2 linked regions of the Homo sapiens genome follow. The protein of the gene in region 2 interacts with the protein of the main gene of each other region in a pairwise test. Each region holds a gene or a part of one and is shown on either strand. Other genes may lie near its edges.

The links.
Region 1: the proteins of PUM1 (region 2) and PRR12 interact in a two-hybrid assay, tested with the Homo sapiens proteins (one large-scale study listed by BioGRID and IntAct).

The regions. Positions count from the first base shown.
Region 1 is NC_000019.10:49,618,628-49,622,440, reverse strand, and holds part of PRR12 (proline-rich protein 12), read right to left. Parts: intron 2,090-3,813; coding exon 1,964-2,089; intron 917-1,963; coding exon 819-916; intron 1-818.
Region 2 is NC_000001.11:30,964,527-30,968,339, forward strand, and holds part of PUM1 (pumilio homolog 1), read right to left. Parts: intron 3,712-3,813; exon of another isoform or gene 3,637-3,711; intron 2,785-3,636; coding exon 2,641-2,784; intron 1,753-2,640; coding exon 1,456-1,752; intron 385-1,455; coding exon 148-384; intron 1-147. UniProt on the Homo sapiens protein: Sequence-specific RNA-binding protein that acts as a post-transcriptional repressor by binding the 3'-UTR of mRNA targets.

The sequences.
Region 1 (3,813 bases), on a different chromosome or scaffold from region 2:
TTTTATTTTGAGTAGAGACGGGGTTTCACTTTTTTTTATTTTGAGAGAGCCAGGGTGGTCTCGAACTCTTGACCTCAGGCCATCTACCGGCCTTGGCTTCCCAAAGTGCTAGGATCACAGGCGTGAGCCACTGTGCCCGGCCTTCCTGCGTATTTTCTAAGACTAACTTCCCACCAGCCATCTCAGCACCAGCCTAATAGCCTATCCCAGAATTCTTAGTACCAGCCTAGAATCCATCCCAGAATTCTCAGAATCACTGCAAGTCTTCCAGAATTCTCAAAGCCAGAATAACATTCGATTCCAGAAGTCTCAGTTACCCTAACATTCTATCCCGGAATTCTCAGTGCCACACTAACATCCCAACCAGAATCCTCAGAGCCAGTTTAACACTGGATTTCAGAGCCCTGATATTCCATCCCAGAATATCCCAGAAGGGAAATCATACAGATGACTTAACACTGAAGCCTGGGATCCTAATAGCCTGCATTGGACTCACAAAGAAGCCATCGGTCCAGTGCCCGCTTTGGGTGCAGGCCTAGTCTATGTTTGGCTGCACACTTGTTCTCCGAAACAACAGCCCAGCCTTTCACAACCACCCCTCTGCTGCCCCAAGGCCCACAGCTCCTCCCCACATGGGCTTCATGGCTGTTGAGAACCCAGAGATCTCCTGACAGTCCTGCCCTCAACTTTTCTCCCATCTGAGCCCAGAAGGACGATCTCCTTCCAAGGATCACCCCCGCCAACAGCGGCCGACACGTACATGTCTTCTCCATGTGGACCCTGGGCCCCAGACACCCCCTGCCCAGACCCCCAGGCACCTGCAGGGCTGGGCTTAGCGACAGCCGCTTCAGGACTTTCTTCTTGTGCTCATTCAGCAGGCCGTCTATCTTCCGCATGGGGGGCAGGTACAGCTCGTCTGATGGACGAGGACATGGTATCAGGAAGGCCACAGCCTCACAAAGCACTGGGGCCAAGGTGGGGTCATGGAGTCTGGGTCCCCAAATCCCCTTCCCACTCAGAGACAAAAGTACAGGCCCCAGCCCCCTCCTCCTTCGGACCCAGGAGTCCAGGCCCCAGCTCCCTCCTCCCTCAGACCCAGGAGTCCAGACCCCCAGCCGCTCCTCCCTCAGACCCAGGAGTCCAGACCCCCAGCCGCTCCTCCCTCAGACCCAGGAGTCCAGACCCCCAGCCCCTCCTCTCTCTGACCCAAGAGTCCAGACCCCCAGCCCCTCCTCCCTCAGACCCAGGAGTCCAGGCCCCAGCCCCTCCTCCCTCAGACCCAGGAGTCCAGACCCCCAGGCCCTCGACCCCCAGCCCCTCCTCCCTCAGACCCAGGAGTCCAGGCCCCAGTCCCTCCTCCCTCAGACCCAGGAGTCCAGGCCCCAGCCCCTCCTCCCTCAGACCCAGGAGTCCAGACCCCAGCCCCTCCTCCCTCAGACCCAGGAGTCCAGGCCCCAGTCCCTCCTCCCTCAGACCCAGGAGTCCAGGCCCCAGTCCCTCCTTCCTCAGACCCGGGAGTCCAGTCCCTCCTTCCTCAGACCTGGGAGTCCAGGTCCAGCCTCTCCTCCCTCAGAACCAGGAGTCTAGGCCCCCAGCGCCTCCTCCCTCAAACCCAGGAGTCCAGGCCCCCAGCCCCTCCTCCCTCAGACCCAGGAGTCCAGGCCCCCAGCCCTTCCTCCCTCAGACCCAGGAGTCCAGGCCCCCAGCCTCTTCTCCCTCAGACCCAGGAGTCCAGGCCCCCAGCCTCTTCTCCCTAGGACCCAGGGACCTCCTCCCTCAGACCCAGGACTCCAGGCCCCAGCCCCTCCTCTCTCAGACCCAGGTCCAGGCCTCAGCTCCTCTTCCCTCAGACTCAGGAGTCCCGACCCCAAACCTCTCCTCTCTCACATCACGTCCAAGCCCTCAGCACCTGCTCCCTCAGACCGAGTCAGCCCCCCCCCCTCCTCCCCAGGCCTCAGCTCACCATGCGTGTCCTCCAGGGCCTGGATCATGTCTGGGTCAAGTGCTGTGCTCACCAACATCTCCACGTAGCTCCGGTACATCTCCCGCATCGCCCTGGTTTTGAGCAGACGCCCAGGTACTGCCCGCTCTGCAGAAAAGACAGGACGCAGGCTCGTTATCCCAATTTCCTCTGAGACCACCTGTGTGGCAGACACTGTTCTCAACACTGGGGACCGGAAGAGAAATCCCTGCTTTTGGGAGGTCCAAGTCCGCTAGGGAAGATTGACAGGCAAGCGCCAGTGCCACGTGCTCTTGTGGCAGAATCACAGGGACTGCAAGAAGCTCAGAGAAGGCCAGGCACAGTGGCTCACGCCTGTCATCCCAGCACTTTGGGAGGCCGAGGCAGATCACCTAAGGTCAGGAGTTTGATACCAGCCTGGCCAGCGTGGCAAAACCCTGTCTCTACTAAAAATACAAAAATTATCCAGGCGTGGTGGCACACGCCTGTAATCCCAGCTACTCGGAAGGCTGAGGTAGGACGGCTTGAACCCAGGAGGCGGAGGTTGCAGTGAGCCAAGATTGTGCCATTGCACAGCCTGGGTGACAGAGTGAAACTCGTCTCCAAAAAAAAAAAAAAAAAAAAAAAAAGCCAGGCATTGTAGCCCATAAAGTGCTGTGGCCTGCAATCCCAGCACTTTGGGAGGCCGAGGCAGGCAGATCACCTGAGGTCGGGAATTGGAGACCAGCCTGACCAACATGGAGAAACCCCGTCTCTACTAAGAAATACAAAATTAGCCGGGCATGGTGGTGCATGCCTGTAATCCCAGCCACTCGGGAGGCTGAGGCAGGAGAATCCCTTGAACCTGGGAGGCGGAGGTTGCGGTGAGCCGAGATCGCACAATTGTACCCCAGCCTGGACAACAAGAGCGAAACTCCGTCTCAAAAAAAAAAAAAAAAAAAAAAAGGGCTGGGCATGGTGGCTCACACCTGTAATCCCACCACTTTGGGAGGCCAAGGCAAGTGGATCACCTGAGGTCGGGAGTTCGAGACCAGCCTGACCAACATGGAGAAACCCTGTCTCTACTAAAAATACAAAATTAGCCGGGTGTGGTGGTGCGTGCCTGTAATCACAGCGACTCGGGAGGCTGAGGCAGGAGAATCGCTTGAACCCGGGAGGCAGAGGTTGCGGTGAGCTGAGATCGCACAACTGCACTGGCAATAAGCCTGGGCAACGAGAGCAAGACTGTCTCAAAAAAAAAAAAAAAAAAAAAAAAACTCACAGGAGGCATCAGACTCACCCTTGTTCAAGATCAAACAAAGGCTGAGCCTTGAGTGATAGCTCAGAGCACTTAATTGTGGCTTCACGTAAGTCTAAAGCAGCAGCATTGTTGGTTTCCAAAAGAGGGTATCCAGGGAGGTCAGATCATAAAGGGGCAAGGCTGAGGGACGAGATGGGAGCTGGCATTGCACAGGTCAGTGCAGGCCAGACCACACTGGGCCTCCAACACCAGGCAGAAAGGGCAAGGGCTTTTTCTGGTGGGTACTAGGGAGCCATGAGAGAGCTGAGAGCAGGGAAGGGGTGAGTGTAAGCGTAGAAAGATCCCTCCTAAGCCAAGCAGGGGACAGACTGGAGGAGTGAGGCTGAAGTCCAGGCTGATGGACCAGGTAGGAACGAATGAAGGTGGGGCAGGGCTGGAAGCAGAGGACGAGGCTGAGCTGGGCAGGCCTGGGAAAGGGTGGAGGGGATGGGGGCGGACAGGGCTGGGAGCTGCCCAGCTGTGGGGGCGACAGGTAGAAAAAGAAAAGAGGAAGGCCGGGTGCAGTGGCTCATGCCTGTGATCCCAGCACTTTGTGAGACTGAGGCGAGAGGAT
Region 2 (3,813 bases):
TAACATGAGGTATTTACGGAAGGCACAGAACACCCAGGACACTTCTAGTATAAAGGGACTGTCCTTTGCTTATGCAAAGTTCTTGTAATGTCATCGGTGGCAAGAGAGTTCTAGAGTTCAAGGTGGTGTTAGAGTAATGGTTCTTACCCAGGTTTAAGCTTGAAGAGGATCCATGTGAAGAGAGGGAAGGAGGTGGTGTCTGTGAATGTCCTGGTCCCTGACTAGGGAGAGGCATGCCCACGGGTCCAGGAGAGGAGGAAAAGCTAAGGCCGTTATAAAAACTGTGTCCAATGGGGGTCAAGCTGCTCGATGTCCTCTTATAAAGGTCACTGCTGCCAGTCAGGGAGTCACGGCGGGAGCCACTGCCAGTGTTGGAGTTTGCAACTAAAATGGAATTAAAACAATGCAGATAAGAACAGGCCTGTTCTTCGAAGAACAAGCCCAGTGACCTGTTCCTAACACTTTGATCCAGACTCCTTACCACCGCAAATTTGTCAGCAGAGACAGCCTAACTGTTAATGTAGCAGTACTAGGGGCAGATAAGTAATAAAGAGGACATGGCTCAGGTTAACATGACCATCAAACATATGCCAAATTTACCTTCCTATGGTGTCGTATATTATAGGATAAGGGAGGGTTAAAAAGCTCTGACGGCCACATGAACTATGGAAAAGGTGGAAGAAAATGGACTAGAAGAATGCCTTTCATCAATTGAAAAGGTTCAAGTAGAAAAATGGGATACAGAAAAAAGATTTGTAAATGGGGTACTGCCCCACTACACAAGACTTCTATATGAAAGCCTGTTTTCTCAGTGGGTTCAATCGAGAGTTAATGCTGCCCTCAATTCCAATTAAGATACTTTCTTTCACACATGCCCTTCTATTTAGGGATCACTTTTGTTTGTTTGTTTTTTATAATCTCTGCAATTATCCCATTATTCACCATACTACACTCCTGCTTTTTTCATCAAAACATTAAAAATATCTTGGTCTAATATCCTTCCTCCTAATTTTCCACATGTCTACCTTAAATTCTACTCAAAAGACTGAAGAAAACTTGTAACTCTTTAAGGCCTGCAGGCCAAGAACTCGGCTCAGTCTCAATTGTGGAGTATTTCAGCTCTGCTATCTTTAGTAAGTCCTCCTCCCTCAGTTTTTGATATCAATTTCTACAGTTCCCTCAATATTTTTCCCAAATACAGCAAAAATCTTCCCTAGATTTCAAATCCCTGAAAGAAACTGATTAAGTAAGTAGCCACATGAGCATGGATTGAAATAGGTCCCATCTGTATAACTTGATTTCAATAGTCTATCATCTCACAGATTATGTGGGATGGCTGGATTCCCACAAGGCTTGGTCCAGATCTGCCTGTGGTTCCATGCATTGCCAGTATTCCAGAAGGATTGTAAAAATAATTAAAATTCAGTCTTAAGAGCATATCAGTCTAATTTCTACCTGCTGTTCCAAACCCTCCAAGGGCGGATCCCAGGGTGGCGCCGAGAGAACTGCTACTTCCGAATCCCAAGGATGTGTTGGCAGGCTGGGCAGAGCCCTGGGAGAAGAGGGAGCTGCTCTGTGAATTGCTGTTCAGAGAGTTGTTGCCGTAGAAAGAACTGGATGCCAGGTTGTTATTGGGCTGCTGCTGGGGCTGGGGCTGAGGCTGCTGTGTTCCTAAAGGGCGAAATGGTCCATTTGTTGTTCCAGCAAGACCACCAGCTGCTCCATTTGCTGAAGCTGCGGCTGCTGCAACAGCTATGAAGAAGAAAGCAAACCGTTTGGCTATGAAAGGGACTGGCCACATTTCCAAACTACATTTTTATCTTTTTTCAAAAAATCTTTTAATGCTGCCTATCTTTTCAAAACAGACACAAACCATACAAATCTGTCTTTGATCCCTTCATATGAAGCTTCTATTTTCTGTTTCTACTTTCAATTTGAACTCAAAATACCACTAGAACAAGTTCACTATGCTGGTTGCTTTTAAGAGTATACAGATTAAAAGGGGTATAAACATCAAATGTATCCATTAAATACAACTACTTCCTAAAATCTTAAATTCCATAAATATCTATGTTGAGGGTTTCTTCTAGAACCATGTAATGCACATACACATCCTTCAAATTCCTATTTTAGCACACTGCTGTCTTCTAGATGTTCCTGTTATTGTTCTTAATTAAAAAATAAATAAATATAAACACTTAAAGTAAAAAACTATTACTCCTCCCAACCAAATGTATTATTTTGTCACTTCTCACTACTCTTTCCCACGTCCTCCACTCCTGCCCCTGTGGCAAAAAACAACCCCTCCTCTAAAATTATCTTAAAATAATGACTTGGATTTCTGCCAACAAAGCCATTTTGTGTGAGTAATGCAACTTCTATGTTCTCAGTGGAGCCAGACCTTCAGACCTTGCTTCTAACCAGCTGGCACATGCCACCCCTCCCCCAACCCACCAACCCCCCAACAAAAAGGAGAATCCACTAAGGTCACTTATTGCTTCTGATCTCTTTTTGAAACATTACAGGGTAGAACCGATATACTGAGAATTGCCAAAAGTTTATTTCAACATACTTTAAGAATCTCACTATCAGTCGCCACTTTTAGATCTCTGGCAGGAGTCCACTCAGATGTGCGCTCACCTGCTTGTGCAGCTGAGGAACTAATGATGACTGGGGCAGGAGCTACAAGTCGAACAGGAGCTCCAAGACCATTTCTCGCGCCTGCATTCACTACAAGGGCACCAGTTTGGTCATAGTAAGCAGCAGGAGCCAACACCGGATAACCTAGGAATATCAAGCCAACAAAGAAATGTATATGTTAAACAAACAAGTATCTCCTGGGCACCAACATATTGTCAATAATCACAAACTCAGCTTTGAGGTTGAATTGGCCAGATTTATATACTGGCTCCATCACTTAAATAGTTGAATAAACAGAGGCTACAAATGATTATAAAAATCATAGTACTTTCATACTACATAATAATTTAAGAACAAATATCCTGCAAAATAGCAGGAAAAACCTAGATAGGCTTTAAATAACATGATCTTTCAATATTATGTGAGATAGAATCTCCAAATCCCAGTTTAAGCCATATGAAAAACTGCAGGTGACTTCCTAAGAACACACAAAGGCTCAGTAACTAAAAAACAAATGAAACAGGTTAAAGTTATTTATTGAATTCATAAATGGCTCAGTTAAATTGGCTATGCTCTATGATCAGTAAAGGTCCATAAAAATACGCTGACATCTCTCAAAGACTTGTTTCACATGTAGAACATCAAAGTACATCTAATCCCATGCAAAGCACCAAACCAGCTGACAGTGAACCAAAAACAACATATATTCAAGATGTATCTATATAAACATGTATCTCAGAGGTAGACAGCTAAAAAGGACCCCTACTATTGGTTTAAGAGAAACCTTAAAAACGTAAGGGATGACCCTATCAAGGTATACCAGAAATTTCTCACTAATCATGCTGTTCAAAAACATCAACATAAAGACTAAGCCTTGTAAACTAGCTTGGCCACTCCATCTATCCCTGATTCTGAAACAGAAAACAGATAATCCACCAAGGAAAAACCACATATTCCAAGCTGCATGGACATTTAGATACCTCCAATATGACTTAAGACTGGCTCAGAACAATGCTCTCATCAGTGAACTATAGTCTAAGTGAGGGCAAGTGTGTATCATCCTTGCCAGTCCCCAAATCATGACAAGCCTAAGCAAGGTGAAAGCACTGCTCATTCCCCTCTGTAATCACCTCAAACGTGCAGCCTTTTTCCCTGCCAAAGTATTAGGAATAA